5 separate regions of the Homo sapiens genome follow, and regions 2, 3, 4 and 5 are each linked to region 1. Evidence: fine-mapped expression QTL. A gene starts in region 1. Each other region holds a variant in brackets. All regions are shown on one strand. Distances are between the middles of the regions.

Region 1 (5,177 bases):
ACATTCACTTACAATATCATCTAGCTGCAGACAGACAGGATCTTCATCTCTCCCAAACCTGAGAACCAACACCTTCTCAGCAGTACTTTTTATCGCCTGGTCTACTTCCTTTTTGCTAGTCAGCTTGGGCAGTAGGAAGCTCATCTTGAAATAACCCAAATGTGAATCCTCACTGTCACTCCTGAAATAAAGGTGCAATGTTTAAAGACAGTTTAGATTAAGTGCGTGAGCCCTCATTAAAAAAAATTAATTCACAGAGTAGCTAATGTATTCACATGGTATGAAAGAAACATCATAGAAAGGTAACACTGTGGAGTTTCCCTCTCTTTGTCCCTGCTCCTTGGAACCAGTTTTCATTGTTCCCTCCCCCGGGCCAGATAACTGCTTTCATTAGTTTCTCATGTATCTTTCAGAGTTTTGTTATGCATTCACCAAAAAATACAAATATGCGTTCCGATATTTTTTTTCTCTCTCTCCCCACCCCCAAAAGATAGCCTATTGTATCAGTGTTCCAGCAGGAAAGCGATGACACTCTCAACTTTGGTAATTTGAAGGCAGTTTAATTAAGGCAGGTGTAGAAAAACAATACGGTAAAGTGTACTACTTTGGGGCTAGTAACAGCGGGATGCTGTACCCATCCCTAGGCCATGGGAGGAAGAAGCCACGGTAGGAAGCAGTTATAAGAATTGTGTGGCAGAAAGAGGTGAGTGGAGAGGACAGTGTATAGGAGGGCAGCCTGCTGTTAGGTGTTGCAGCCACTCTCCTCCCTCCCTCTGACCTTTGCTCATGCAACCACCGGCTGACTCCAACTGGAACCAGAGGGCAGGGGCCTGTTGAGGCAGGCAAACCTCCCTGTCCCAGAGCAGTCTAGAGGAGGATGAAGAATGGCTGTGGAGGGACCAATGGCAGATGTTCAGCACACACACTTTATCTACTCTTCAGCACTTTTCATTATTTCAAACCTAACCTATGAAGATTGCCCCATATCTCTATATAGAGAACATCCATATTCTCTGTCATGGCAGCATATTATTTCTTGCATGTGTTACACTTTTTAAACAGTCCTTTATTGTATACTTTATATTATTACAAGTCCTGGCTTAAAGATTCTTCGTGTGCACCTTACTAGGTGCACCTCATTACACGGCAAACAGATCAATTAAGAGTGTGTGTGAAAACTACAATACCATAAACAAATAATAAAATACTGAGGTACAAGGGACCTAATACAACCCCGTCATTTTACAAACTAGCTTGCTTACAGTTGCACTTTCTACTACAATGACAAGGACTAGAATACAGGCCACCAAATTTCTAGTCCAGGGGTCCTTCTACTACAATAATCTATTTTCATGATTGGTAGAAATTTCATTTTTGAGAAACTCTTTGACAAAGAAGCTTAGTTTTGTGGTCATCTATAAGAGACTCCATTGAGATGGTCGGTATTTTGAATTCAGTTCCAAATATGAAAAGGGAGGATTTCTTTTCCTATTTTTTTTGTCACAAGTCACATTTTAAGATACGAATTAGGCCAGGCTCACCCCTGTAATCCCAGCACTTTGGGAGGCCAAGGAGGGTGGATCACCTATGGCCAGGAATTCGAGACCAGCCTGGCCAACATGGTGAAACCCCGTCTCTACTAAAAATACAAAAAATTAGCCGGGCGTGGTGGCAGATGCCACCTGTAATCCAAGCTACTCAGGAGGCTGAGGCAGGAGAATTGCTTGAACCCTGGAGGCGGAGGTTGCAGTGAGCTAGGATCGCTCCACTGCACTCCAGCCTGGGCAAGGCAACAAGAGCGAAGCTCCGTCTCCAAAAAAAAAAAAAGGAATTATTTAACTAAAATTCACATAGGAAATAAGATTGTTCCAGCTATAGGTCATACTTTAAACAGGGACATTGATGGCCCAAAGGGACGTCATCAGATGTGAGCAGCAGAACAAATTACCAATGAAAGGGAAGGTCAAAGAGAAGACGGATCTGTCCCACTAGAATTCAAACAAACAGCAGTTCCTCCGTGTTACTGATCGAAAGGAGAAAGTAAGGGGAGAACAAAGTTGTTAGTGGTGAGGCTAGGGGTGCAACTGGACAAACGTTGGAAGCAGGAGAGGAAAACTGAGACCACATCTAAGAAAATGTCCATAGTAAATGATACCCACAGAGAATTCCCAAAAGAAGACGTACAAATGGACAGTAAATAAACTAAAAAGTTAAGCTTTACCAGTAAGCAAAGAAAAGCAAATTAAAACATATGTTTACAAAGTCACTGAATTGGCAAAAATTAAACAAGATAGTGGTAGGGGCAGGCACAGGGAGTTCCTGCTGGAATGCAGACACAAAACCTTTCTGGAAAGAAAACTGACATACTCTTTGACCAATAACTCCACTGCTTTCCTCTCTCCCTCTCTTTTTCTGAGGCGGGGTTTCGCTATGTTGCCCAGGCTGGTCTCAACTCCCCAGGCTCAAGCAATCCTCCCGCCTCAGCCTCCCGAGTAGCTGGAACCTCAGGCGCGCGCCACAACTGCAGAAACACCAAAAAAAGAAAAAAAGCTTGAACTCACTTTTGTACAGAATCTTACTACAATGTATTCCAGAAAAACAACTGGAAATCAGTGGTCATCTCTGCGTGTGAACGCATGGGTGATTTTTATTTACAGCCGGGCGCGCATCTCCATTTTCCAAAATATCCGATATACATATTTAAAGTCACCTGTGTTGCGCTGCTCCTGGCCCACAAGCGCTAAGGGACCCCAGCACTTACCTTACTCGTCCACGCCGCCTCACTCCCTTTCACTTTGTGGCTGTCAGCAACCACTTCTCGGAAGAGCCCGGGCGCGGACAGCTCCTTTCATCAGCCCCAAGCCGGACAGGACCCTAAGACCAAGTCACCCAGGGGCTGTTGCCTAGCAACCCTCGTGGCCCCGCTAGCGGGAAGGAAACCGAACAGAAAACGCACAAGCGCAGAAAAGAAACTCCTGGCCGTCGGTCGGCCCCCGCTCAACAGCCCAATAAACGGAAGAGCTTCTAGTCACCGCCCACCTTGCTCGGCTCTGACCGGAAGCTAGGCGTCACCTCCGCCCGTATTAAAGATGGTCGACCTTTTTCCCCTCCTTTTCCTGCCCCCAGACTAGAGGCGGGATGTAGTCTCTTAGGCTAAGAGTGATTGGTCACAAGGAGACTCGGAAGTGTCTGATCAGAGCCCCAGAGGAGGCCTTGAGAGCCTGTTGGCGTACCGTTCCACACTTGGATCCAGGAATCGGGCGTGTTCCAGGCTGCTCTCTATGGTAGCTTTGGGCGGATAGAGGGGGCGCGCAAAGTATTAAGGGACAATAATGGCCGCTTTCAAGGTGTGGATTTTGGCTCCTTGAGCCTGTCTGAGCGAGGGGTGGCAGCGCCGGCGCCCCAGAATCCGGGACAGAAGGGTCCCAAGAGTCGCGCTTGGTGAGGTGAGAGTCCCTTCTTCCTTCCTGGCCTGCCCTTCTGTAATCATGGCGGCTCTAGGCGGCGGATATTGGTCCCCTGCTCAGGTCCGGGCCCCAGTTTGGGGAGTTCCTCTGTCGTCCCTGTCACCCACCTTGCCTTACTCACCTCAGGGATGCTGCATCCGTCCTGGCCGCCTTGGCCTTCCTCCTTGCTCTGGTCAAATCCTGCTGCCTGGAGCGGCCTCGCTGAGATCCAGGGATGCTGCCTGGAGTGGCCTTGGTCCCTCTCCCAGGCCTCCGCTTTAACCCACCCCAGACTGTCACCGAGCCCGAGTAGGACTCCTTGTGTCTTCCTCTGCTCTCTCACAGTGTCATTTATACCAGGCAATCTGGTGGGCGATCTCTTCTACTAGAATGTCAGCTCCAGGTGGGCGGGGATTTTTGTCTTGTTCTCTGTTGCTATCGCCGAGAACAGCAATTGGCTCAGGGACACCCTCAGTGAATAATTGTTGAATGAATGAATCCAGGTTCTTTCTTCCCTGGCTTTCTCGTACGCCTTGTAGTTTCTTTGCCATTAATCCTTCTCAAGAATCTTGCTCTTTAGCTCCTTATTTGTTCGTCTCAGCAGCTAATGAAGTTCTCTCTGGCTGTCTCCTTGTCCTGTGTTGCTGGAATCTTCCCTTGCTGTCTCCAGAAATGTTTGGGTTCCTGTCCTCCTTTAATAAGTTTAAATTAATTCATTTTTTAATTTATCAAACGCTTATTTTGCTAGACATTGAGCTACAGCAGTCAACAACACATCCAGTGTTCTCTCAACTGCGTAGAATGGCAGTCCAGGGTACCTTTCCTAGTTTAGACAACTATTGAGTAGAGCCTGTATATCTTTACCTTCTTGTGTGGATTTCCTCACATGCGCACAGATGTCACCAATATGCAGCTTTCTTTTTTTCTGTTCTGCCTGATGGCATTTTCAAAATGTAACTCTTGTTTCTGCATTAATATTATGTGTCCAGTCTGTTTGGCAATACTCTGTAGAGCTGTGCATTTAATTAGAGTTTGGTAAACAATTCTGGATTCTGGTGGCATCTCCTTTGCTTTGCTAACTTGTTGGAATGAGAGGAATTATCCAAGCATCCAGAACTGATATATGTTGATGAGTGGCAGATGTGTAGTGAGAGGTAAAGAGGAGCTTGTTCCAACTTGAGTGCCAGAAGTCTTGTAGCCACTTAAATACTTCTCAGTAACACCTTTTCCTAACCTGGTGTTTCTCATAAATATTTTTGGTGAACATGGATTGTTATTAAACTGATTTTGGCTGCTGTGAGTAAATTGTTTTCTGTAAAACGCAGCTAGGCCAAGAAAAGCCACTAAAGTATGGAGAACATGGACGGTAGCCTTCTGCCCCATCTCTGTGCTGCTGTACCTGTTGTTTAAAGAGAGGAAGAGGTAGAACTCATGTAAAAAAATGGGTGAGGGACCAACAGTATATAGGAGGATAGCAAATAATACAATGTAGCAGTTACATTTATGTTAACTGTTATGGTTACATAAAGAGCTACTCTTTATGGTTTCACATACACTTTTTGTTTGATTCTCACAATAGCTTCATGGATTAGATAAGGTAAAAATTTTTTCCATTTAATAGATATGAAATTATGGCTAAACAAAGATTAAGTTATTTGCTTACCATCATACAGGTAGAAAGTGTCAAGAGCCTGGTTTCTAATTGAGGTTTCTGATTCAAATTTAGTGGTG
Region 2 (5,000 bases), 98 kb before region 1:
CATCTAACATTTGCAGCTGTGAGGTCATACCCCGAAGAGTGATCACGAGATCCACTTTAAATCGATCTGTTTCACTTCTTTCTTTCAGTTGATCTCTATAACCACCCATCCACCGATATTGATTGCCGTCATTTCAGGCTAATGCATCCTTCCCAAATAGTACTTGTTTTTCAAAATTAAATAAACAAGTGATAACACCATAATTTGAAAGACTTTGCAAGAACTTTAAGACGACTACTTTGTTGATGAAAAATTTTGTGGGAATAAAACCTTGTCTTTTATTTGGGAATATATGAAAAGACGGCGGCCAAGGGCATATCAAGAAAACACATACATAAAATGAAGGCAAAGACTGCCATATTAAGATCAGACAGAATAGAATGCAACGAATATTGGGCACATGTTATAACACATTTCAGCATTAATTCAGTCTTGTGCATTCTTTTAGCAGAAATTGATTCCACGGATTTTTAAGGTTACTAGAGGAGTAACGCATTACCTGGGGGCATTTTGTCTCTTGCTATTGCAACTCCTCTTTTTGTCTTCTTGTGTCTCTGGTACAAATGGGAATTATTTCCATTTCTTTCATAATGGGCATCTCCGTCCAAAAAGTCACCTATTTGAAAGCCAACACACAAGTTAATTTATAGGTTATAGCTATGGCTACAAGTCTATAAAACCATCATTACATGCACGTATGTGATAATCAGGAAAACACAAATTAAAAATTCCTATCCAGTTTTTTAAGGACACTAAGAATTCTGCAGTAGCCCTTTTGCTCTGCTCACATTATGGTGTCCCACATTTCAAATTAAGTTCACTAGTTGGGTCAACACTGAGAAGTTCATTAACCCATTTATGCCTAGTGTTCCATTATTGGAACACTAGGCATGTGGAGTTATTTACATCCTACTGCTTAAGGTCATCGCCAGGGTCTGATTTTTCACCAAAAAAGTTTGCAACCTCCAGCATAAATGGAAAATTCCATACTAAGCGTAATATTCTCCTTTGAGTTCTGTAACTCTCATTGGTAGAGATAAAAGAGTTCAGAAGGTGGATGATAACATTCTTTTTTTTGAGACAATTTTTGCTCTGTTGCCCAGGCTGGAATGCAATGGCACGATCTGGGCTCACTGCAATCTGCACCTTCTGGGTTCAAGTGATTCTCCTGCCTCAGCCTCCCGAGTAGCTGGGATTACAGGCACGTGCCACCACGCCTAATTTTTTATTTTTAGTAGAAACGAGGTTTCACCATGTTGGCCAGGCTGGTCTTGAACTCCTGACCTCAGGTAATGTGCCCGCCTTGGCCTCCCAAAGTGCTAGGATTACAGGTGTGAGCCACCACGCCCGTCTGGCAATAACATTCTTGAACATGCCTCCTTGCATACACGAGCAAGAGTTTCTCACACACACAATTGGACATGGCTAGAGAAAATCATATAACCATGATGACTATGGCTCAGCTTAAATTCGCTATCGTGAAGCTCGAGCAGCCTGCCTTCATACTGCCTGGCAGTCATACTGTTTCCACTCTCCCAGGTGACTCCCACTTCCCTCTCTCTACTCAACCTCCAACACCTGGGAGCCTCCCTCAGTCTCATTCTTAGGTCAGGTGATAACCTTGCTTTCTAACTCAAGGGGAATATCAAAGCAATTTAGAGTCCTTCCATGACTCTGACCATCAAATCTAGCTGTCTACCAGCACCTGTACCTGTAGCGAGACAATGCCTTCTCTCATGCTGCTACAAATCTTCCTACTCCTACCCAAAGTGAATCCCTCTAGTTGTTTGGTAGCTCAGATTAAGTACATCATTCCTGCATGCTATTTCTTCTGCCTTAAAAAAAACCCAGCAACTTATATTGGCCTCATGAACTATTGCCCCAGCTGTTTCCTGCTCTTGAGCAAAATTACCTTAAAAATTGTCCAAACTTATCAGCTCCAATTCTTCTCCTCCCCTCTTTTTCCCTACATTTAGGGATTGCTTTTTACAATGTTAACAGGCTGGGTGTGGTGGCTCATGCCTGTAATCCCCGCACTTAGGGAGGCCGAGGAGACTGTATCACCTGAGGTCAGGAGTTCGAGACCAGCCTGGCCAGGATGGTGAAACCGCCGTCTCTACTAAAAATACAAAAATTAGCCGAGTGCCTATAATCCCAGCTACTTGGGAGGCTGAGGCAGGAGAATCACTTGAACCCAGGAGGTGGAGGTTGCAGTGAGCCAAGATCACGCCATTACACTCCAGCCTGGGCAACAAGAGTAAAACTCCATCTCAAGAAAAAAAAACAGTTGACTTAAATTTGTTTTATAATTGCTTTAGTCTGTTTTGCACTGCTATAACAGACTACCACAAACAGGGTAATTTATAAAGAACAGAAATCTAATGCTCACAGTTCTGGAGGCTGGACGTCCAAGAAGAAGGCACTGGCACTTGGAGTTGGGGGAAGGCTGCAACCTCGTAAGGTGAAAAGGCAAGAGAAGCCCTCCCTCTGCCAAGTCCTTTTATAAGGGCCCCTAATCCCATTCACAAGGGAGGAGCCCTGTAGGCCAACCCACCTCTTAAAGCCCCACGTCTTAATGCGATCACATTGGCAACACCTGTTTTGGAAGGGGCACATTCAAACCATAGCAATAATTATGGAAAACATTTAAAGAGTTCCAATGCCAAACTATAAAACCAGGTACATTTCGAAAGGTCTCATTTCCATCTTCATCCTTTCTGCCCTATTTTCTCTCTCCCTCATAGGTAACCATTTTCATTAGTTTTTGTTTCTCCTTCTGTTATATTTATACGTACGTGTATGTATACAGGCAAATATATATGTTCTGTACCTTTATTTTCCACTAAAAAAATACATCATAGAGATAACCCCACTGCAGTACATGGAGATTGTTGTTATTTGCTTTTTACAACCAGTTCCCTCTTGATGGGCATGTGGATTATTCCTACTTTTTTCTATCACAGAGAGCTACAATGAATAGCCTTACGTGTGCATCTTTTTGTACTTTTGCTGGTTTGACTTTGGGATAGATTCCTAGCAGTGGACACTGGGTCAAGGGTAGATGTATATGTAATTTTGCTAGATATTG[C/T]TGAATTCCCCTTTATTTATAAATATATACAGATTATATCTTACTGCATTCTCACTAGCAACTTATGAGAGTACCTATTTTCTTATGGCCTTGCCAACGGAAAGTGTTGTTAAGTTTGTGGATTTATGCCAATCTGATAGGTGGGAAAGGGTATCTCAGTTTATTTTTAATTTGCATTACGCTATTTTTTTTGGCAAAAATACTGTGTAAGTGATGTGTATACTTACATCAGTGCATTTTTCTTTTTTTTAAAAAATGTAACTTATTATTTTGAGATAATTGTATATTCACATGCCGATGTAAGAGAAAATGCAGAGAGATGCCTTTATCCAGTTTCCAAGGGTAACATCTTGCAAGGGTAACAACAGGATATGGACGCTGATACAGTCATGTCAAAATTTTTTTTCAATTGCTATAAGAATCCCTCACATTGACCCACCTCCCCCGCCTTTTTTTTTTTTTTTTTTTTTTTTTCTGAGACGGAGTCTTGCTCTGTCACCAGGCTAGAGTGCAGTGGCGCAATCTTGGCTGACTGCAACCTCCGCCTCCCGGTTCAAGCGATTCTCCTGCCTCAGCCTCCTGAGTACCTGGGACTACAGGTGCACACCACCACGCCTGGCTAATTTTTGTATTTTTAGTAGAGACTGGGGTTTCACCATGTTGGCCAGGATGGTCTCAATCTCTTTACCTCGTGATCCACCCGCCTTGGCCTCCCAAAGTGCTGGGATTACAGGCATGAGCCACTGTGCCTGGCCCACATTGTCCTTTTATAGCGACGCCTACTTCCTTCCTGCCCCCATGCCCTTCTTAGACCCCGACAACCACTAATCTGTTCTCCATTTCTATCATGTTATCATTTCAAGAATGCTCAATAAATGGCACCATAGAGTACGTAACATTTTGAGATTGGCTTTGTTCACTTGGCACAATTCTCTGGAGATTGCTGTGTGTATCAATAGTTTGTTTCTTTTTATTACTGAATTGGACTCCATGGAATCCAATTCAACAACCAGAGGGATTCACTTTGGGTAGGAGTATGAAGGTTTGTAGCAGCATGAGAGAAGGCATTATCTCTCTACAGGTACAGGTGCTGGTAGGTGGGTAGATTTGGTGGTCCGAGCCTTGGACGGACTCCAAATTGCTTTGATTTTTTTTTTTTTTTTTTTTCTCCTTGAGTTAGAAAGCGAGGTTATCACCTGACCTAAGAATGAGACTGAGGGAGGCTCCCAGTTGTTGGAGGTTAAGTAGAGAGAGGAAAGTGGGAAAGAGTCACCCGGGAGAGTGGAAACAGTATGACTGCTATGGCTAGACCACAGTGGTTTAATCATTCACCTGTTGACAGACATCTGAATTGTTTCCAGTTTTGTTCTGTTATGAATAAAGCTGCTATAAGCATCCATATACATAGTTTTACGTGAGCACAGGTTTTCTCATTCTGCGATAAATGCCCAGCAATTGCTCAGTTGTATGGTAGTTGTTTTTTTTTTAAGAAATCACCAAGGCCGGGCACGGTGGCTCATTCCTGTAATCCTAGCACTTTGAGAGGCCGAGGTGGGAGGATTGCTTGAGTCCAGGAGTTCGAGACCAGCCTGGACAACATAACAAGACCCCCCCCCCCACAACCACTCCCCACTCCACCGTCTCCACATAAAAAAATAAATAGGCTGGGCGCAGTGGCTCATGCCTGTAATCCCAACACTTTGGGAGGCCAAGGCAGGCGGATCATCTGAGGTTGGGAGTTCGAGACTGGCCTGACCAACATGGAGAAACCCCATCTCTACTAAAAATACAAAATTAGCCGGGCATGGTGGCACATGCCTGTAATCCCAGCTACTAGGGAGGCTGAGGCAGGAGAATCACTGGAACCCGGGAGGCGGAGCTTGTGGTGAGCCGAGATTGTGCCATTGCACTC
Region 3 (5,000 bases), 60 kb after region 1:
CTCAGGGAAGACTGGTATTTATCCCTGTAGAGGTTTAAGCTCCTCTCTAGAGAGGCGATCTTGTCCCCGGCCAAGGCGAGTTGCTCCTGCGCCAAATGGAGCTTCTCCCCTGTGTTCTCGTTGTGATTTCCCATTTCCTCCTCATAGAGAATCACCTGTAGGTGTAGGAATAAATCCACATTGAGCCCATGGAAGCACGTAATGAGGAAAGGATGCGGTTGTAAGATTCCCTGCAGAGAAGTCTTGTATCTGAACCAGAAGACCAGATGAACAGAAGAGAGGCTGCACAGATCTAAAAGCTACAGTATGTAATATCAAGATGCTAATGATTGGAAACAAAAAAAGGTGGCCCTAGTTAGAGGTAAGCTCCTTCAAGGCAGGATCATATCCATTTCCCATTCTGCCCAGCATGTGGCAGAAACTCAATGAATACTTGCTAGTTGATTAATAGGAATGAATTTGTATAGCTCTGTTTTTTAAGGGCTTGAAATGCTGGTATTTTTTCCTTCCCAGGCATTCTCTAGAGGTTGAACTTAGAAAATGCAGACTTCCTCCTGCACACAGGACTATGTCAGGAAAGTTCCCAAGAGATAGGTGGGGAACATGACCCAAAGTTCCTCTGGGATTTGCACAATCCTTGTTTAGATTTATTTTCTTCCTCATCAAGTAATTAGTCAACAAACTGACAGATATTTATTGAAAGCTCACGAGCATTGTGTTAAGTGCAGAGGGGATATATACATATTAGACATATGCTCACCCCTCAAAGAGTTTAAAACTTTCACAATCTTGGGGACATAAGATTTAAAATGAATAAACAGCTGTAGGTAGTTGAGTGTGCTAAATTGTATGGCTCGAATTTGATGTGTTGAAGGAGTTAACAGCAGAAGAGTCATGAAGGATGGCTTTATATTAGTTTAAATAATCCAATGTAGAATGCTGATAGAACATGTTCCATTAGTTTAAGCTCATTATACTTGCTGTCTGTCATTTGAGATTCTTCTTAGGAAAGGATAACTTTGTGTAAGGTGTCTACTACGTAAGGGGAAGAAGAGAGGAATATTTTATATCCAAATATTTGTAACCAAAGCTGTCAGTGGCCAGCCCATATCCCCTGGGCACTTGCTATTTCTTTGCAAGTTAACCCCATTCCCACTGCAAGCATATTCAACTCTGCCTGAGGGCTTCTCTAATACCAGGAGCCCATTCAACCAGAGAGGCAAGACAGGGTAGGTTAGAAGTGCTGGGGGGTTAACGCCCTCAGGAGCAGCCCTCAACCAATGACTGGGGGTATGTTGGTGGGTTCACTCTGAGGCATGTTCTACACTATCTCCCAGAGTTCCCCAGAGGGACCAAGCAAGCAATCTACTCAATACCAGTGTCCTTTATGGGCTTCCGGTCCTTCTTTGACTCACTTGCTCATGTGCATGCAGGAATCACCTCCGGAATTAGTTACTTGAATTTATATCCTTGTCTTAGGGTCTGCTGTTGAGTGAACCCAACCTTAGACAGATGTTTGATGAGGCTGTGCAACAAGACATTGGGGGAACTTGGCAGAATGTCTAAAATAATTCTCTCAATGCTTTCTCGGTTTGGGATCTTTGACAGTGACTGTTATTTGCCGAGTCCTGTATGTATTCTCCCGCTCTTCCTTACTAATAGAACCTTGACTCTACTGGGGGCAGCAATGCACCTCCTAAAACACCACATTTCCTAGGCTTCCTAGAAACTAGCTGTTGCCATGTGACTAATTCTGGCCAGGGATATTTAAGTGAAGGTGTTGTGGCTTCCGGAAAGTGTCCTTAAAAGGAAGGGAGTGTGCCTTTCCTTTCCACCCTTGTCACCTGGTCCTCTGCCCTTTTATCTGGATTATTTGGAACAAGGATGTGGCCTGGTATGGTGACTCATGCCTGTAACCCCAGCACTTTGGGAGGCCAAGATGGGCGGATCACCCGAGGTCAGGAGTTCAAGACCAGCCTGGCCAACATGGTGAAACCCCGTCTCTACTAAAAATACAAAAATTAGCCGGGTGTGGTGGTGCGTGCCTGTAATCCCAGCTACTCAGGAGGCTGTGGCAGGAGAGTCACTTGAACTTGGGAGGCGGAGGTTGCAGAGAGCCAAGATCGGGCCAATGCATCCCAGCCTGGGCGACAGATTGAGACTTCGTCTCAAAAAAAAAAAAAAAAAAAAAAAAGGATGTGACGGCTGAAGCTCCAGCAGGCACCTCAGGTGACTTAGAGAATGGAAGCCCTGAGCTGATGCTGGTGGAACCCAAGGATAGACCCTTAGACCTGATGACACACACAGTTGCCATAACAGCAACAGACCACCTGTCTCTGACCTTTTTAAATATGACACAGAAATCAACTAGCTTATTTATTTTCTGTTATATGCTGCTAAATAGAATCCCAACTCATTCAGGGTCACTTTATCCAGGCTGGACCCTTTTGTTTAAGTTGTAGTGAACCACTAAGTTTTAACACAGCCCTGCACTATCTTTTTAAAACTATGTGTATGTGCACAGGCTAAGTCATAGATTATATTTGTAGGATTAGAATAACCTTTCTCTGTTCCTCCCACTCTTAATTCTTTTGAGCAGATTTTCACTAGGTGACAATATTCCCTTTTTAAAAAGTCTATGGTCTGTAAGGTCCTACCTAAAGTCCTTGAAGTTAGTCCTTAAGCAACAGCACCATCCAAAACACTCTTTGAAATTTTTTTTTCTTCTCCGTCCTTCCAATAGAACCTAACTCCTTGAAATTTTATCTTTAAATCTAAAGAAAGAAAATGCCAGGGGAAACCCCAGGATGGAAGAGTACGTCTGTCCCATCATTTAGAACCCATGGTTTACTGCACCTAGTGCTATCACTGCTCAAGTGGTTTTAGTGCTGCAGCTTTGGGTTTTTGGAATTTACTTGGGATTCTAAAGGGGTGGTACTCTTC[G/A]GCTTAGAAAATACCACCCTGGAACATGAATGGGAATTAATGTCCTGAATATACCTAAGTGAAGCCTATATGATCTAAAACTCCAGTCTGAAAAAATTACCTGGTACTCTCAATGATTGACTCCCACTCAACATCTGGTTATCTTATCTAGTGTGCACGTGCCAGGAATTTATATATTATCAAGACCTTATTTTTCTAAAAATGGTGGATTTAATGGACCTTATACCTCTTTGATAACCCTCAGAGACCTACAGTCTTTTGCATTTACATTGCAATGGTAATAGAATGGAGAAGATGGACTTATACACACACACACACACACACACACACACACACACACACACATGCCTGCACACACACTCCACATATTCCACATGCATGAATACTGCAGCTTTCACCGAGTTATGCCATTCAGTTTAGTTTCCTTCTGCTCAGCTTCAAAAAGATCAAGAATTAAAGGGGGAAGGTTTATAAAACCTGCTCGGGATGTTGCAAAGCTCTCCTAAGTCCAGCGTCTGCTTTCTAGTGGGCTTGGTCTGATTTCTGCAGGTACCTAAGAATGTGGGTTATTTCCATGGTTAATCTGTCTATACCTCATCTTCTTTCAGTTTGCAGTGATGGTGCAGAAGAACCAGGTCGGAAGTCTGCTTCTCTAGGATGGACTGATACTGGCGGAGAGAATAGTAAGAAGTCTGCAACTCCTCTGTGTGAAACTCCAGTTCTTGTTGAAGGACCAGCAATTTTTTCTTCAGTTGCTGGAGTTGTCTCAGATGACACTGTTTACTGGACCCAAATTCCACCTCTGACTCCTCGAATGCTAATGCCTGTGCTTGCTTCTTGTCCTACCATAGAGACAGGATATACAAAAAAGGCTTTAGATCATCACTAAGGACGTATTCATTCCAGGATTTTTTTTTCATTTGTTCAGTCATTCACATCCATCTATCCATCTTTTTATCTTTTCATCTACAGAGATCTTATTAAACATTTCACTCTATTCACAAGGAAATGTATCACTTAGTATTCCCACTCAGTAAGAAGAATTCAGTAGAAGAAAAAAAATGGTTCTTATCTACCAAAATCTTATTATTTAGGTCAGAAGAAAAAATATACACATAAAGGACCTAGGGAGATATGTGTAATAATATGCTGAGGTGTTGCCTTCCCATATAAAGATAACACTAGTGACTTGGAAGGAAATGGATTTCTGGCCTTGGTTCTTGGACTAAACTTGGTATTAAAAACACCTGGGTAAAGGAGCATTGCAATGAGTCAAGGGTGAATTCTTGGGGATTTTGAAACGCTGAAAAATGAGAGCCAGAGATATTGTTCAGGTACATCTGGGCACTGACTCTGTCTCCTTCTCCTGAAGGAAGATGTGACCTTGCGGATGCTGACTCTGTGTGCGTGTGTGTGTGTGTATGTGTGTGTGTGGTGTGATCTCTTCTTGCTAATCCACAATCTATCTGAAATGCTGCTAGGCTCATCCTTCATTTTCATTCATTCATTCATTCACTCAACAGACACAGGCTAAGCACCTATGTTTTACCAGGTATTCTGCTGGTAGGACACATCCCTGAGTTGCTGATGCTTCTATATTTCCTATATTTTCCAGCATCCCTTATGACAATGACACGTGAGGTTAAGGTGGATAAAGAGGGTAGCCTCTGGGCAGTCCTTAGCATCCAACCCTGCTTATTATCCTCCTACACATTCTTTAAGTTTCTGTTTAAATCCTGCTCTCCTTCCTGTTTTTTCCCTGCAAAGCTGTCTTTGCACCAGTACCACAGACTTTGCTAGCATGTCCTTAATGTGCTATTCTGTATTCTGTCTGTAATTATTTCTGTGCATTTTAACTTCTAATTAGATTATAAACTCCTGGAGGGCAGGGCCATGTTTGCTCTTATGGGGCCTAGTTTACAGATTCATACATACCTATGAATTGAATGAAAGAAATGAAAATAGCGTCCAAGCAATCTCATTGGCTCCCGAGGGGTTGAGCTTGTGGCCTTGGCCTCATTAACAGAGTACTTCTAATACCGTGGCTTTCAAATTTT
Region 4 (5,177 bases), 83 kb after region 1:
ATATTCTGTTCTGCCTCTTGCGTCTCTGTTGAGACCTTCATTTCTTCATGCCTTGTCTACTGCCATCTGCCCAGGCAACTCCTTTTTTGTATTCAAAACTCCTGCCATCTGCTTTTCAAAGTAGGACTTCTCTTGGTGACAGCTGTGCCTAAAGAAATGATTGTAGTGAAAACAAAAACTTGGTCAGAGCTTCTAGTGATGTTTTGTGCCTTCCCTCAGTCTACTATCAGAGCACCTTGCAGATTCCCAAGAAACACCTAACACCACACCTCAAATGGGTGACTAAGGTAGCAAGTATCAAGTCAGGTGTGCAAAAAGAGAAAGTAACTCTTTCTATTACTCAGTGTTTTTGTTTAGCCCCATTTTCACCAAATGGCAGAAAACACAATCTTAGTTATTTCTGAGAAAGCACCACGACTTTCAGGTTAAAAATGAATCAGTTCATGATTCCCTCACAGTTCATGATTCTCTCAACCTCTTTAAGGCGTCTCCAGAGTGTGCTTAAGATTTTGAGGTCCCAGTTTGGATCCTGGCACCAGGGGAAGCTTGTGGTCCATGGTCATGGGCATCTCTCCTAGCTAGAGTATGCCGAGGTGTCACTGTCCTGGTCAGTAGGCCACATGTACTAGTATTAGTCTGTTCTCACATTGTTATATGGAAATACCCGAAACTGGGTAATTTATAAAGAAAAGAGGTTTAATTGACTCATAGTTCTGCATGGCTGGGGAGGCCTCAGGAAACTTACAATCTTGGCAGACAGCACCTCTTCACAAGGTGGCAGGAGAGAGAATGAGTGCCAGCATGGCAAATGCCAGACACTTATAAAACCATCAGATCTCGTGAGAACTCATTCACTATCACGAGAACAGCATGGGGGAAAACACCCCATGATTCAATTACCTCCCACCAGCTCCCTATCACAACACATGGGGATTGTGGGATTACAATTCAAGATGACACAGCCAAACCATATCACCTTATATCCTGTGTCTTCCTCATCCTAAGGGCTTTGGGTCATCTGGCACTTCCTCATCCTTTGAAGATGCTCCTCCCTGTTCCCCATCAAGACACAAACACATGCACACACATACCACACATACATACACACACACCACATGAGAGTAGATTCAGACTGTCTCTTAGACTTGTCCTATCAGCATTCTATCTTTTACCTTGAAAGGTATTGAGAGAAAGAGGACAGAATGCTCACTTTCCTGGTTTTGATCAAAAGTCCCTCTGCCCTTCGATCACTAAACCTATCTGGGAATCTATTGTTTTCCCTCCCTTCTGCCCCATCTCATAGATCTCACCAGGGTCTAATTCTCCTGCTTATGTTCCAGTTACCCTATTCCTCCTCTTTCCTAACTCAAACAGTCTTTGTGTGGTTTTGGAGAGAGGAAGGAAAAGGGGCATAAGTGAACAAGTTCTCTGAAATGCAGTTTTAGCAGGCCAGGATGTGAAACACATCAGTTAGTACTTCACATACCACCTGCCCACATTGGGTTACACAAATGCCGTAATCACAGACTGCTAATTTTGACTCCCTCCCCAAGGAACTGGTAAGTGCCTGGGTATATGGTTGACTCCTGGCCTTACAGCAACCTTGTTGCTCCAAGGAACACCGACTATTCCTTTTCCTTCATGGCCTGGATGGAAGAATATCAAGGGTCTGTTTTTCCTAATCTAAAACATGTTTCCGGGTTTTCAGGAAAGAGATGCTTTTTTGGTTTAAAATTAAAGCTATCTTTGTGGGATAATACAAACTAACTCAGGCTTACCTATACTAAGCCATAAGTCTTTCCTTTACTTATGTTGGGCTTTAGATTTTTCTCCAATGTTCTACCTCCTACCAGTGAAAAAAGTGTGATGAATCTTAGAGCTCTTAATTATTGAAATGATGAGAGGGAGCTAAAGGTTTTCTCTATTTTTAAAAATGTGTGAGCCCCATGAACAGACAGGGATACTTATTGTATACTAATTATTTCTACCCAGAAAGTATGATTGGAGCCAATGTGCAGAGGCTTGGTGTGCAGAGGCTTGGCATGCAGAGAGTTCGCCTTTTTGAATCCAAACCCGGTTCTAAAGGAGAAAATCCCTGGTAGTGCAGAGCATAACTGGTAGGGGGAGATGGTATGAGGAGATGATGTTGGAGATGGTTTTGCCAGGGTTTGGGGTTCTGCAGAGTAACAGTGAATAGGAACCTGACACCAATGTCACTGACTGAGCCACAGTCCAATTCCAGGACTGGAGTTCTTCTGGAGAGAAAGTAGGGCTAGTTGGGTCTCTCCAGAAAGAGGCTTTTGAATGACAGAAGAAATTAGGGGCCAGGAGGAGCAGGAGAAGGAATCCAGGATTTATGAGACTCACTGTCCTAGGTGAAAATGTCTCCCCCTGGCTCTCTTCTTTGCTACCTTTCACAGAGGCTGTTTGTTGTCTGTTCCAACATCCATACTCTTTATTTTCCTTAGTAACAGATGCTCATTTTATTGGGATGTGCATGCACTCATCTAAAAGACTCTATCTCCTAGCCTCTCTTGCAGCTAGGTATGATTATGTGTCTAAGTTTTGGTCAATGAGACATAAAATGGAGTATTGTGGGGACTTCCATGAAATCTTCTGAAAGAGAAGTAGTGCACAGCTCTTTGTTCTTCCCACCTTTCTAATGGCTTGTAATGCTGACTTAATGCCTGGTGTTCCACCAGCCATCTGGAACATGAGGCCTTAATGCTATGGAACTATCATTGCCAGCCCTGGATAGAAGGAGCAATTTCTATCTTGCTTAAGTAATGATTTTGTTTTTAATTTTTCTGTTTCATACACCTGAATCTAATGCAAGCTGACACTGACAAAACACACTTATTTAAGTTACTCTCAGAGATCTCTCTCTACAGTTCACTCACCGTTTCTAGCACCTCCACTAGTTGCTTATACTCTACATTTTGGAACCCCTGTTTCATGGTGGACCAGCTCTTCAGCGATTCCACAGATATGTTTCTCAAATGCCCCTTCCCTTTCTCGACTTGCCTTGGTTTTCTCTTGAGATGTCAGTTCTTTGTGTTCACTTTCTCCTTCTCTATTT[G/T]CTGTATGGAGTAGAAACAGCCAGGGTCAGGGAGAGAGGAACATTTCAGCCTTCCTACTGCCACCACTATTACTCCCATGCCATTTTGGAAAATTTCCCATTTTGAAGTACACAGTCCACCTAATCTTTGTTGCCATTATCATTGACTGACATGGAGAAAATTCTCCCAATTGGTTGCTCTTTCTTTCTTTACGAGATATATTCTTTCTGCCTGTCCAAAGTCACACATCTTCAAGACCCAACCCAATTGCCATTTCTTTCAACTTCCCTAAACTACATGTCACATTAACTCTTGTATGGCAGCTACTATATGCCAGGCAGTGTTCTGAACATAAAATAACAGAGCTAATCCTCACAGCAGCCTTGCCAGGTGTGTACCCTTTCCCCCTTACAGCCCTTTTCCCATACCTCTTTTAACACAATGATCTGCCTTTATTATGGTTGTTTGTGATTTGCTTTGTCTCTCCCCAAAGGTAGAAGTGATCTATTCTGGTGAAAGAACAGGAACACACAGACCTTTTTGAAATAATTTTAGATTTCCAGAAAAGTTGCAAAAATAGTACACAGAGTTCCTGTATACCCTTTCCCCAGTTTCCCCAATATTAACATCTTACATGATGATACGATGATCAAAACTAAGAAATTAACATGGGTCCAAAACTATGGACAAAACTGCATACTTTGTTAGGATGTCACCAGTTTTTTCACTAATGTCCTTTTTCTGTTCTAGGATCTGATTCAGTATTCCACATTGCATTTAGTTGTTTTATATCTTTAGACTCCACTAATCTATGATAATTCCTCAGTCTTTCCTTGTCTTCCGTGACTTGGACACTTTTAAACAGTACTGGAAAGTTAATTCATAGAATGCCCCTCAATTTGAATTTGCCTGATTTTTTTTTCTTTTTGAGAAAGAGTCTTACTTTGTTGCCCAGGCTGGAGTGCAGTGGTGTGAACATGGCACACTGCAGCCTCGACTTCCCAGGCTCAAGCAATCCTCCCACCTCAGCCTCCCAAGTAGCTGGGACTACAGGCACTCACCACCAAGCCTGGCTAATTTTTGTATTTTTTTGTAGAGACAGGTTTTCACCATGTTGCCAAGGCTAGTCTCAAACTCCTGAGCTCAAGCGATCTGGCTGCTTCGGTCTCCCAAAGTGCCTGATGTTTCTCTGTGCTGAGATTGAGGCTATGCATTTTGGGCAAGTGTGTCATACACCTTCTTAGTGTATCATGTCAGGGATACATGATATCAATGCATCTTATCCCTGATGATGTTGACCTTGGTCACCTGGTTATGCTGGTGTCTACTGGGTTTATCTACTATAAAGTTATTATTTTTCCCCACTATAATTAATAAATATATTAAGGGAGATACTTTAAGAGTATACAAATATCCTGTTTTTCTTCAAACTGTCACCTGCTATCTTTAGCAAGGTGGATCTCACTTGCAATAATTGTTACAGTAGTATTCTAATGGGGGTCTTCTTTTTCCTTTATTTCTTCTACATTTATTCGCTGGAACTCTTCTGTAAGAAAGAGCTGCTCTTTCTCACCCATTTAATTAATGTATTGTTTACATCACTATGAACTCATGGATATCTATTATATGGGCTATAATCTAATACTGTTATTTATTTTGTTGCTCAAATGTTCCAGCTTTGGCCAATGGGCCAAAGGTTGGCTCCTGAGCCCTTTCAACAATACCCATTCTTAAGCACATTCTTACTTTTGGGTACGAGATGCTCCAGGTTCATCTTATACTTTTCCCTGCCTCAGCCACTTCTTCATGGAGTCAGGGCTCACATTTTGACTCAAGTTAACTTCTCTGAGTCTCAGTTTCCCCATTTGGAAACAACTGGAACAATAATACCTACCTTACAGGGTGGTTATGGGGATTAAATAAATAATGTAATGGGGTAATATTCAGACAATTTTAATGGGCATTTTTTCTTTGCCCTCTCCACCATAAACTCTCCAACATAGACTCTGCTTCTTGAGTTGCCCTGGGCTGGCACTATGCAACAAGACTCTTGTCTTAAGAAAAGATTTTCCAAATTCCTTTATCTTCTCTCCCCAACCCAGCCCTCCTCCACCTTCT
Region 5 (5,177 bases), 130 kb after region 1:
CTCTCCTCTACTCCGTTGACTGCCAGATTGTCTTACAGCATAGATGAAACCACGTGACTTCTGTGCCCCAAGACTTTGATGTCTACAGAATAAAGTTCAAGCTTCTCAACGTTGTCACCTGGAATCTGGCCACAATTGATCTTTTCAGGCCTATCTCTCCCTATCTCCTTTTCTAATTACACATTTTTGATTCTTGCCCAACCCAACCACTCACTATTTCCCAAGCACACCCTATACTTTCCCACGCCTTTGACTCCCACATGACCTTTGTCACACCTGCCTCCCTTCTGCTCTGCCTGACAAATTTTAACCTCTTCTTCAAACACCAGCCCAAATGCTCAGTTCCATAAAGCTTCTGTGACCTTGCCTCGCCTGCCTCAGAGAGAAGTAATTTGCTTTTAGAGTTCACACAGTGCCTGTGAATACTTGTTGAGTGACTGAATCAACTTGCTCATAGCAATTTCATATTGTCTCTTACACCTCAATTGGTTGCAATACGTGCACTGGTCTGTCACCTCCCGAGATTCCAGGATCCCTAAAGATATGAACAAGGCCTTGTTTGTATCCCACACAGAATTTGTACTTTGCACATATTAAGGGCTTCTTAAATTTAGTTATACTCTACTAACAATAAAATTTATGTGTTTTGACACATTTTTTGTTCTGAGTTACTTATATAAACAAGCATGTAGTTCTATCTTTAATAATGAAGAATTAATGGTACCTGTAGATGAATTTAACGGTGAGACACAGTGGTGGAGCTAAGGCGACCTCCCCAACTTCTGGTCCAGTGTTCTTTGCTCCACCATACTTTATCCATACATCAGCATTCCTCAAAGAACTAGAACACTTCAGAATAGTTACTTCTTTAAGCACCTGAAAGAAGAGCCTATCAGAGAAGCAATGTCTGAGCAGGAGAAACCATGTGCTCTCCCCACACCCCAAATGATGCACAGAAGGCACATCCATGCTGGTCATGCACAAGATGCCTGTTTCACTTAGTCTCCGAGGTCAAGCTTACCACCTTAGGTCACTCTTTTATCTCAGGACAGCAGGGAAATAAAGAAGTCAATAGACCCCACTGGCCCGGCACAGTGGCTTATGCCTATAATCCCAGCAGTTAGGGAGGCCAAGGCGGGAGGATCACTTGAGCCCAGAAATTCAAGACCAGCCTGGGTAACACAGCAAGACCCCATGTCTTTACACGGGGTCTCTACAAAAACAAAACAAAACAAAAAACTAGCCAGGTGTGGTGGTGCATGCCTAAAGTTTCAGCTACTCAGGAGGCTGAGGTGGGAGGATCACTTGAACCTGGGAGTTCAAGGTTACAGTGAGCTATGATCATGCCCCTCCACTCCAGCCGGGATGACAGAATGAGACTGTTTATAATAATAATAATAATAATAATAATAATAATAATAATAATAAAGCCTCACAAAATCCTAGAAGCTCTTATTTCGACATAATCCTTTTCACATAGCCCATAGATGCTAGGTGTGTAGTCACATTTGAAGAAATCAATCTAGGTCACAGATGAAAAATTGGTTAATTCTTATACCTGACATCACATGTGCATGTACATCCACACACACATGCATGCACACTCACAGACACACACACACACACACACACACACACACACACACTGAGCAACAGTCTTCAGAAGCCAAAGCATCTCTAAGCTACCAAACACTACTTTCTGAGATTCCCTACCCAGTTCTTCCTATGAGCACTTTATTCCCACTGAACATGGTCATCCCCAGCTGAAGACTATACCCTATGCTATGGAATCCATCCTCTCTGTCAAGCTACATATTTGTACGCTTTGTTATCCAATCCAACTGGCCCAGGCTTTGTGAGCAGTGTCTGAGTATTCCTCTGGGAATTCTTTGGTTACTAGATTATTCTGGGCTGTGGTTATCTTTCAATACCTCATAGGTATTATCTAGCCTTTCCAGTGATAATAATTAGAGCAATTAGCATGGCCAGTAGCTTTGGACTGATTTATTCTCTTAAGCTAATGTGCAGGTAGGAAAGATTTAACTGCCCTGGTTCTGTCAAGGTCCAAGTGGTGCGTAGGCTTCCACTGCTTAGTCAAGCATTTCCGGGGTTAATTTTCATTAAAATGACCCTGACACTAATGACAAGTGACTGTTTCTGCCCCCATTTCAATTTCATAATAATGTCCTTTTATTTGCTTCTCACTAAAGGATACAGACACATTGCCAAAAGCTTCCATTTGTCTCCATTATATATCATTTTTAATTTTAATTTCAGAATTGTTTCTTTGTAAGAATTTTGTCTCTCTCTTAGAACAAAAAATATTTGAGGGCAGAAACTGTATTTTATTTGATAACCGGTACATAAGGTGGTTGAAATGATAAAACAAACAAACAAACAAACAACAATTCCACATCTGAACTAACAATATTCTAGAGATTCGCAAAGAAGCATTTGGATTTCAGTCTCGCCACAACATGTCAAGAGAGACCTTTTGTCAGTTCCTTAACCCCTTGATCTCCATCAGCAAAAATGAGCATAATAATGCTCACCTAAAAAGGTTTTAGCGAAGATGAGATGAGAAAAAATTTTATGAAAGTACCTGGCATTGCTTGGATGTCAAATGAATCTGAGCATATTACCATATTACCAAATAGCTGAGACCTAATAAAAAACCCACCCTCCCTAAATGCTCATGAAAATGTAACTAAACCAAGAAGAATTTAATATGTTTCTTTTATGCCCCTCTGCCTGATTTCATTTGTAGAAAAAAAAAAGCCTATAAAATTTAGTGTTTTTAGGAATTGTAAAGACTACTTAGCTTAATGTCCGCATTTAATAGGAAAAGAAACTGAGATTCAGAGACGTTAACTTCAAGGTTATATGGCTAATAATTAGCATGCTGATTCCCCTTACATTTTGCACACAGGATAGTCTGCACTGTTATTCTGAAAGATGTGTTAAAGAGCTGATCCTTCCTCTTGAGTCTAGGGTGAGAATGACTGATGACAGCAATTCACCTTGAATCCTTTTTATAACTTTTTGTTATGCTTCCAATGATTAAAGGGACACATGCTTATTCTAGAACATTTGGAAGAAAAGTGTAAGAAAGAAAATTAAAACTACCTACAGTTCATCATCTAGTGATAAATATTTTTAACATTTTAGCATGATTAATAAAATTGGGATGA[T/A]TCTATATTTTTGTACTTGAATTAAAAAAATTGACATTATTCTATTGATATTTCCCCATATTATTAAAGTCTTTGAAAATATGATTTCAAAGGGCCGTATAACATTCTTCCATGTGGATTTATCATTGCTCAGGAGGCAGAATGGTATGCCCTTAAGAGTCAGAGAGACGTGGCATAGAATTCCAATCCCACCCCTCTAACAGCTAGGTGATACAAAACCAGCTACTAATCCTCATTAAGCCTCAGTCCTCACATCTGCAAAATATTGATAATATTCACCACATGTGGTTTCTATCAAGGTTAAATGATGTGGCATATATATGTACTTAGCATTGTGCCCCCACACAATGAGCACTTCATAAATGGTAGCTATTTATTGTTATTATGTTATCACATTCTTATTATTGGACATTTAGGTTGTTTCCAGTTATAAGTAAACACCTAAACGCCAAGTGAAATATCTTCCCCGTAGCCCCCATGGTAACCTACCTGAAATATGTATCTGTTATGCTTACTCCTGTGCTTGAAATCTGTAGCTCCCCATCAAAGGTTTTCAAACTTTCTTTTCAGAAGTGGAAGCCTTTTGTTAAACATCTTAAGGAAAACTTCCCAGGCAACTTGGGTTGTGGCAGGGGTGGGGTTCGAGCCTGGACCAATTCCCAGCCCTTCTCCCACCGTCGTTGACATAGGCCCCTAAAGCATTTCTGAGGAATGCTAAGGCTACTCTGAACACACTGGGAGGAATTTTGGCCTACTGGGTGAAAGGAAGGTTCTGAGTATCGTGTACGATACCTCCAAACTGCTCGTTCCTGAAAGACCCCGATGCAGTTTATTCCCTTACGATTTTGTTATGTTGTTGCTTTTGCCTGGAATGTTCTTAACTCCCATCTTCCCAAGGCTAACACCTACAATGGACTCCATCTGCACATCACTTCACCCAGGAAGCCATCCCTGCTCCAGCCTGCTGAGACACTCTTCTCCCGTTTCTAGGATACCTGGTCAAGTTCTCCATCACTGTGGGGAACACAGAGCTGAACTGTGAGCTCTTACAGGACACAGACTGCATCTCATTGACAGCTGTATTCCCAGTCCCCAGCATAACGTCTGGTACTGCTAAATGCTCACCAAAACTATTTGTTAAATCTACAAACTTATGAATAAATTTGGGGTGCCTCTCTATTTCTTTAGGATAGTTTTGCAGAAGCAGATTACTGGGTCAAAAGGATGACCACTTTTAGGCTTCTTTTCTTTCTTGTATATTTTTTCCCTTACTTCTCTACAGATGAGTACAATATTTTTCTTGTATACTCTTTATATATTACTTTTTTTTTTTTTTTTTACTTTCCAACTTTATTTTAGGTTCGGGGGTACATGTGCAGGATTGTTACATGAGTAAACTGGGTGGCATGGGGCTTTGGTGTACAGATTATTTTATCACCCGTAATAAGCACAGTACCCCATTGGTAGAGAATGATCCTCATTCTCTTCCCACCCTCTAGCCTCAAGTAAGCCCAATGTCTATTGTTCCCTTCTTTATGTCCATGTGTTTTCAGTGTTTAGCTCTCACTTATAAGTGAGAACATGCAGTATTTGGTTTTCTGTTCCTATGTTAGTGTGCTTAGGATAATGGCCTCTAGCTCCATCCATGTTGCTGTCAAGTATATTATCTCATTCTTATTTACGGCTGCATAATATTCCATGGTATATATGTACCACACTTTTTAAAATCCAGTCCACTGTTGATGGGCATTTAGGTTGATTGCATATCTTTGCTATTGTGAATAGTGCTGTGATGAACATAAGTGTGCATGTGTCTTTATGGTAGAACAATTTATATTCCTTTGGGTATGTAACCAGTAACGAGATTGCTGGGTTGAACGGTAGTTCTGTTTTAAGTTCTTCGAGAAATTGCCAAACTGCTTTCCACAAGGGCTGAACTAATTTACATTCCCACAGCAGTGCATAAGCATTCCTTTTTCTCCACAA

The links. PIP is the estimated chance that this variant, and not a neighbour inherited with it, causes the effect. A credible set is the group of variants that fine-mapping cannot tell apart.
Region 2: its variant is the best candidate, but not a certain one, in a credible set for the expression of TXNL4B in uterus (GTEx, PIP 0.90).
Region 3: its variant is the best candidate, but not a certain one, in a credible set for the expression of TXNL4B in sun-exposed skin (GTEx, PIP 0.73).
Region 4: its variant is the best candidate, but not a certain one, in a credible set for the expression of TXNL4B in blood mononuclear cells (TOPMed, PIP 0.72).
Region 5: its variant is the best candidate, but not a certain one, in a credible set for the expression of TXNL4B in minor salivary gland (GTEx, PIP 0.81).

What each region holds. Positions count from the first base shown.
Region 1 is chr16:72,090,606-72,095,782 of GRCh38, forward strand. It overlaps TXNL4B (thioredoxin like 4B), which reads right to left and starts at 3,015. Exons shown (of 4, transcript NM_017853.3): 1 at 2,762-3,015; 2 at 13-181. The coding sequence starts at 144. DHX38 (DEAH-box helicase 38) reads left to right here and starts at 3,242. Exons shown (of 27, transcript NM_014003.4): 1 at 3,242-3,446. RefSeq lists enhancers at 2,788-3,117, 3,128-3,177, 3,238-3,537.
Region 2 is chr16:71,992,717-71,997,716 of GRCh38, forward strand. It overlaps PKD1L3 (polycystin 1 like 3, transient receptor potential channel interacting), which reads right to left. Exons shown (of 30, transcript NM_181536.2): 3 at 500-616. Among named protein-coding and RNA genes, the nearest start is that of PKD1L3, 5.2 kb to the right of the region's middle. The variant C/T (reference allele first, on the strand shown) is at 3,089.
Region 3 is chr16:72,150,675-72,155,674 of GRCh38, forward strand. PMFBP1 (polyamine modulated factor 1 binding protein 1) reads right to left here. Exons shown (of 21, transcript NM_031293.3): 4 at 3,537-3,785; 5 at 1-155. Among named protein-coding and RNA genes, the nearest start is that of PMFBP1, 19 kb to the right of the region's middle. The variant G/A (reference allele first, on the strand shown) is at 2,944.
Region 4 is chr16:72,173,923-72,179,099 of GRCh38, forward strand. It overlaps a transcript of PMFBP1 not described here. Among named protein-coding and RNA genes, the nearest start is that of PMFBP1, 4.4 kb to the left of the region's middle. The variant G/T (reference allele first, on the strand shown) is at 3,080.
Region 5 is chr16:72,224,325-72,229,501 of GRCh38, forward strand. It overlaps a transcript of PMFBP1 not described here. Among named protein-coding and RNA genes, the nearest start is that of PMFBP1, 55 kb to the left of the region's middle. RefSeq lists an enhancer at 1-89. The variant T/A (reference allele first, on the strand shown) is at 3,192.